Homo sapiens: one gene and its partner. The protein of the gene in region 2 purifies or fractionates together with the protein of the main gene of each other region. This does not show direct contact. Each region holds a gene or a part of one and is shown on either strand. Other genes may lie near its edges.

Evidence for each region. The genes of interacting proteins can lie anywhere in the genome.
Region 1: the proteins of ATF7IP2 (region 2) and STRA6 purify together in Homo sapiens (affinity purification with mass spectrometry; one large-scale study listed by BioGRID and IntAct). This does not show direct contact.

The regions. Positions count from the first base shown.
Region 1 is NC_000015.10:74,196,288-74,199,787, forward strand, and holds part of STRA6 (receptor for retinol uptake STRA6), read right to left. Parts: intron 1,532-3,500; coding exon 1,465-1,531; intron 1,137-1,464; coding exon 1,051-1,136; intron 1-1,050. UniProt on the Homo sapiens protein: Functions as a retinol transporter. Accepts all-trans retinol from the extracellular retinol-binding protein RBP4, facilitates retinol transport across the cell membrane, and then transfers retinol to the cytoplasmic retinol-binding protein RBP1.
Region 2 is NC_000016.10:10,431,061-10,434,560, reverse strand, and holds part of ATF7IP2 (activating transcription factor 7-interacting protein 2), read right to left. Parts: coding exon 3,106-3,500; intron 1,048-3,105; exon of another isoform or gene 1,037-1,047; coding exon 912-1,036; intron 1-911. UniProt on the Homo sapiens protein: Recruiter that couples transcriptional factors to general transcription apparatus and thereby modulates transcription regulation and chromatin formation. Can both act as an activator or a repressor depending on the context.

The DNA.
Region 1 (3,500 bases), on a different chromosome or scaffold from region 2:
ATTCCATAGATATTTGTGGAGTGCCTCTTATCTACCAAGCTCTGGGCCCCGTGCCAAAGGGACTTGGGACACACATACAGTGGGAAGAAGCCCTAAGACTGCTCCTCCGCCCACCCTGGAAGCTCCAGGAAGCAGCCACCTCCACACTAATTGGTCTGTCTGAGCTGGCAAACCTTCAGAGAACTCAGCGAGTCACAACATCCTTGTACAACAGCCGCCGCCCTGGGCTGGGTGTGGACCCGGGGCAGAGGGCAGACAGCGGGCATAGCTGTCCCAGGCATCACCCTTCTGGGCTCAGGGCAAGCCACTCAGACCCACAGCTTCTGCACTGCAGCTTGCATTCATGCTCTGAGAGGTTCATTCTCCCTCAAACACTGCCCCAGCCAGGGCAAGCTCTTTCTGGGGCCAACCAGAGACCCCAGGCTGGTTCCCCACAAAACCAGCACAGCAAGACCTGCCTCGGTGCACAGTCTGGGTCTGGGATGTGAAGCTGTCTACACCAAGGAGCCACCCATCACCTGCCCCAACCCTTTGGTCTCTCGCACACTAGCTTGCCCAGCCCCATCTCCTCAGGATCATGCCTGTCCAGGCTCTGGAGTCACAGGGCTGAAGGAGATAGGAGAAGAAAGCTCCAGCTATAGGGGCTAGATGTCAGTCCCCATAAATCTGCCTTCAAGCATTAGGGTCCAGGTGATACCCTCAGGGAAGATGACGGTCAAGATGGCATTGGGATGGTCACGTCAATCCACACATGGAGGGCTGCCTGAGAAGGTACACTCTGACGCTGGGTCCTGTCAGGCTTGTTTCCCTAGGGTCTGGGTTGGAGTCCTTTCTCCCAGGCGGGCTTGAGCGAGTCCCTCCCCCTTCCTCTGGGGGTCCTGACTAAACCTGGAGACCTAGGTGGGGGTGAGGAAAGCTCCAGGCTGAGGGCGATAGGGATGTCATTAAAGCCAGAGCTGCCTTTTAGGTACCTAACAAATCACCCACCCTCCCAGAGGGACCCTGTCAGCTGGGTCCCCTGAGTGGGGGTGCCCAGGCCATGGTACAAACCTGGGCAGGCCGGGCCTGCCACGCACACAGTCAGGCCAGAGCTGGCGGCGCCTCACCAGCATGGCCAGGAGCAGCAGCACAAGGATCTGAAAGGAGAGTGCAGAGGAGGGCTTGGGGTGCCCAGGCCTCCCCTGAGGGTCTGAGTTTGAGGGCTTGGACTCAGGCCCCAGGATATCCCCTACCTGCCCAGTGCACACTCATGTGACATCTTGGGGACTGGTCAAGGGGTGACAGACATCTGGAAGGTTGGACTTGCATCCTGGTTTGGGCCTCCAAGCTGGGAGAACTCCCAGATAGCTCCCCCCACCCAGGATCTTCCAGGGCCCCCCTTCACCAGCCCCAGTGGGGAACACAGGTCCCACTGCCCAGGCTGGCAGCAGCTTGCAAGCCAGGTTCAACTTGGGTTGGACTCACTGACAGCGAGGCCAGGCAGGCGTGGTACAGGCCGGGTGGTATGCTGGTGTGGCAGGAGGGCACTTCCCTGCAGAGCAAATGAAGGCTGGCTCAGGCCTGCGTCAGGCCCCCCTGGGTGTGCAGATGGGTCTGGGGTTCAAGACTGTTCACACTGAGGCTTTACCCACTACCTCCCTCAACCCTCTGATCCCTCCTACACAAGCCTTCCCAGTCCCACCTTCTCAGGGTCATTCTGGGGCCCTCGTGTCCCTGTGATGTGCCAGCCCCATGCCAAGCTCTGGGGTTATAAGACTAAAGGACATGGGAAGCTCCCAGGGGAAGCAGAGTAGACCGGCTCGGCCTGATCACTTATTCTCTTTTTTTTTTTTCTGGAGGGACAGGGTCTTGCTCTGTCACCCAGGCTGGAGTGCAGTGGCTCGATCTCGGCTTACTGCAGCCTCAGCCTCCTGGGCTCAAAAGATCCTCCCACCTCAGCCTCATGAGTAGCTGGGACCACAGGTGTGCACCACCATGCCTGGCATTTTTTTTTCTGTATTTTTAGTAGAGACAGGGCCTCACCATGTCGCCCAGGCTGGTCTTGGATTTCTGAGCTCAAGCAATCCTCATGCCTCAGCCTCCCAAAGTGCTGGGATTACAGGTGTGAGCCACTGTGCCCGGCTGAGCACTTATTCTTGCTCACCCAGATGCTTCCTGTCCTTCAAGGCCTCCCCTCTCCAGGGAGCCCCTCTGACTGCTCCTGGTCTCACAGACGTCTTCTCAGAACTGCAGTTGAGCACACTACCTGGGTCAAGCAGTCAAGGGTTTGGCCCTGTGATTCGCCCTCTACTCACTGCCATCTGAGGTTGGTCTGTGACTAAAATGATCTCCCCTGGTCCCTCTCTTTTCCTGCTTCCCTCTCATTGAGAGCCTCCATGGACAGCCATGCAGGTTGCCCACTGCACAAAGATGCTCAGCCAAGGGAACGAGCAGGCCACCCTGCTCACCAAACCCAGCACCTGCTGAGCTGAATGCACCTAACTGGGGATCCCTTTCTCTAATTCCACAGAGGCTCCCTATGGCCTGGCAATGGTCCTGCACTCACCCTGGCTGAGCGCAGAGGTAAACCCACAGTGGAGATAGGGGTCACTGAGGACAATGAAACCCTCCGCTTCCCCAGCAGAATCATGTGGTGGAGAAAGGGAGTGAGGCAGGAGTCCTGAGCTCAGGGCTGGCCCTGGCCCTGGGAGAGTAGGCAGGACTGGGTCCCTGGTGAGCAGTAGAGCTCCGGGTTTTCCCAGCTTGGGCCTGGGAGAGCCAGAGGGAGGGTGGCAGCATGGGTGAGGCCAGTGGGGTCTGGTGGGCGAGGGCCTGAGATGGAGCCTGGGCTGCCGCCAGTCCCTGCCTGCACAGAGGGCTTAGCCGCCCACCAAAACGCCCTCCACTGTATGAAGAGAGGCATCAAGGCTGCATTATCCAGGGGAGTGCAGAGCCCTGGGATGCTCTGCTGGGTCAGCTCGGTCTGTCCTGCTCGCTTTCTCTCAGGAAATCCCAGCGGGTGAGCGGTGGGAAAGAAACCAGTCACTTGGTGGAGAGGCAGAGTAAGTCAGCTCTGGGCAGCTTCTTGGCCAGGAGACCAGCCTCTTCCCAAAGTAGAACTGGGATCGTGAGTAGCAGCCACACTGACTCCAGTGTCAGCTCCCCACCTCCAGCTCCAAGGCCTCTCACTCTGGTGCGTAGGGCAGCCCTCCCTCTCAGCCGGCATCTCCCCGCATGACTAGGTCCCGCTCCACCTTTACACCTGGGCCCGGCAGGGACTTGGAAAACTGTCCCTGGAGTAGTTTGACCATTTTCCTATGGACCTTACCCCAAACCACCCCTACCCCCAGAAATGCCCTCCAGGGCCCTGCCTGGGGGAGCCTCTGGCCCTTTCTGTATCACCTGAGGTCCCCATCTGACCTCTCAGCTCAGTGTGAGGGGTCAGATGGGGATCTCAGGTGGCATAGAAATGAGCAAATATTTGGCTAGTGGCTTGTGGCCCCACTTTTTGTGCCATGGGA
Region 2 (3,500 bases):
CGTAACTCTTTCCCTTTATTTTCCCTTATTATTAGGTGAAGAATACACATTCATAGTATATGTAACTATGTAATTGTAATGGTCTGTTTTAAAAAATGGTAGTGTTTCTGTTTCTGAAACAGTTTGCAGGGTAGTTTAGACGGGGAAATTTCGGTCCATTACAGCTGGAAGACATTAGTCTACTAGGTAATGATTTGTAGTGGTGGCATTCTAGTGGTAGTGAAATAGGAAAACATGGTCATCAAAACCCGTCCTCAGTATAACCATTCTACTAGAACTGAAACACGCTACATACACTTCAGCTAACAATTGATCAAACGCATACTGAGACTGTAGTACAATGAGATAAAATGAGGCCACAATGAAAGCAAGAAGTGTATTTAATGATGCTATACAGCAAAATGTCAGATAATGTACCATATCCGTTTAAGTTTGGAAAATAGGGCAAGTAAACCTGAATGCACAGGGACTTTGCAATGGACTTCCAGGTTGTTTGAGTCTTCTGGGTTGTGGTGAGATCTACAAATGGATAGAGCTGCAGATCTAAGAACCCCATGACTAGTACAAAAGAGACTGGATTCTTTAATAAAGCTGAAGGTCATGCAGTGTCTGACTTACAGACAAATATGAGTGTAATACTGACTGAAAGCCCATTCTCTTTTTGCAACAGGACTCTACCTACACATGATCCCTAGGTTATTCTGCATGAGACCATTTTCAAGAAACCAGAGCTGTTTTGGTAATGTAAGTAGTTATCTCTCCCCAGTCTGTCTGATAATTTGGCTTTCACACACCAGCTCTGCAGCAAGTGAAAGTCGTCTGTATTATGCCACTGTGGGGACCAGATAATTAACTTTTACCATGTTTTACTAATCAAAAGTAAAAGTTCCATTTAAGCCCCAATATTTTACCTGTTCCAGGAATGCTGTTTGCCTTTCCAAACTTACACAAATATTTTCATTAATTTGCTCTGAAGTTTTCATGCGTTTAACATTTTCCTCGTTTTCTGAAAACATCCTCTTCTTTTGATAATGGCCTTGAGGAGATCAAAAGATTAGAAAGAAAGATATTTTAAAGAAAAAAACAGGTTCAGTGTGGTGGCTCATGTCTGTAATCCCAGCACTCTGGGAGGCTAAGGAGGGAGGGTGGCTTAAGGCCAGGAGTTCAAGACCAGCCTGGGCAACATAGTGAAAATTCATCTCCACAAAAAATTTAAAATTAGCTGGGTATGGTGGGGCATGCCCGTAGTCTCAGCTACTCAGGAGGTTGAGGTGAGAGGATTGCTTGAGGCTGGGAGGTTGAGGTGGCAGTGAGCACCTTGACTACTGCACTCTAGCCTGGGCAACACAGTGAGACCCTGTTTCAAGGAGGAAAAAAGAGAAGGAAATAGGAATTCTCTAATTTAGAGACCCTCTGAGCAAATGGAAAAACTAAAATGTGACACTGCAGCATTTTTTAGAACATTCAATTGCATAAATACGTACCCACAAACTAACCTTGAAAAAAAATGAGTTATCTTAGGTAGGGTTCTGGTCTCAGATACTCTGTCCCTTTAATCTTACTTAATAACTCAATACACATATACGAACAAAAACTTAACAAATTATGGCATTTAATTCTCTATTTATAGTGACTTAAGTGGTTCTACGTTATTTTATATAAAGGTACTCTTTTTTCATTTTGAGAAGGAGTCTCACTCTTGTCGCCCAGGCAAGAGTGAAGTGGCACGATCTTGGCTCAGTGCAACTTCCGCCCCCCAGGTTCAAGCAATTCTCCTGTCTCAGTCTCCCAAGTAGCTGCGATAATAATAATAGGTGCCCACCACCACGCCTGGCTAATTTTTTTTGTATTTTTAGTAGAGACGGGGTTTCGCCATGTTGGCCAGGCTGGTCTTGAACTCCTGACCTCAGGTGATCCACCTGCCTCAACCTTCCAAAGTGCTGGGATTGTATTCGTTAGGCACAGCGCCCGGCTTCTTTTTTTTTCTTTAAGAGACAGGGTCTTGGATCTGTTGCCCAGGCTAGCCTGGATGGCTCAAGCGATCCTCCTGCCTCGGCCTCCCAAAGTGCTGTTAATTACAGGCATGAGCCACCACACCCAGCCTATTATACATATTTGAAATAGATGATACTGTTATTATTTTTAAGGAATTTTAAATTCATCTTGTTAAATGACCATTCTGTAGTCTAGACAAGAACACAAAATTTATAGCATTAAATCAGTTTTTTTCTATTTCATTAACAAAATACCCTACTTCAAATGAAATTCACTTTTGCTATTTTAATGATGTTATAACCCAAGGACTTCATTTATTATTTGGGGTGCTTCTCTTTCTCTACACACACATATACACATGTGTGAATATATTATCTATCATACTTAGCATGTGATTTACAGGTCAATTCTATAGAAAGAAATAGGGTTGGCTGGGCACAGTGGCTCACGCCTGTAATCCCAGCACTTTGGGAGGCCAAGGCGGGTGGATCACGAGGTCAGGAGTTCGAGACCAGCATGACCAACATGGTGAAACCCTGTTTCTACTAAAAATACAAAAAAAAAAAAAAAAAAAATTAGCCGGGCGTAGTGGTGCCCATCTGTAATCCCACCTACTCAGGAGGCTGAGGCAGGCAAATCACTCGAACCCAGGAGGTGGGGGTTGCAGTGAGCCAAGATCGCGCCACTGCACTCCAGCCTGAGCGACAGAGCGAGACTCCGTCTCAAAAAAAAAAAAAAAAAAAAAGAAATAGGGTTACCAACAATTTTTAAAACTCACTCTTTCAACTAGCCTCCTTCTTAATCTAATAAAACTTCAAAATAAGAAGAGATGTATATGAAATGAACCAAATAATTGCTATAAACCACCTTTTGATATTTTGTACTTAAGGAAAAGTGATTGATTCCTTCTTTGCAATAATTACCCTTTTAATATGGTGGATACCTGTCCCCCACCTCACTAAGAATGGTTCAGAAACAAGATACTGTGAAATAATTGTCATCATTTACCTTTTTTCTGTCTATACTGGTTTGTATATTTGAGACTTTAAAATACCCTAAAGAAAAGTGACTATTTTAATTTTTCTAAAAGGTGCATAAGTATATACTTACTGTTGTTATTAGTGTCAAGTGATGACTGCCATGTTGAGTCTGCACTTTCACAATTTGAAATACTGGTTCTACTACACTCATCAGTTTTCAAAATGTCATCAGCACAGTTGTTAGAAGTGACTGAATTCACCAAATTAGGTGTTTTCTCAACAGGCACAAAACCTGAGTCTTCTGAACATAAAATGTTGTCACTTTGCCTTTTATCATGTGATTCTGAATTGGAGTTTGTTTCTAAATGGAAAACCATCTGGTCAGTTTTCTTGTCACCCACGGTACTGGTTACTGTAGACTCTGGCATCTGAACAACACCACTCAATACACTGGGTGGACAGCAACTGGACTTTAGACTACAAGCCCCCTCATGCTCAAAAAGGGATCTTGTTACATTTGTCTGA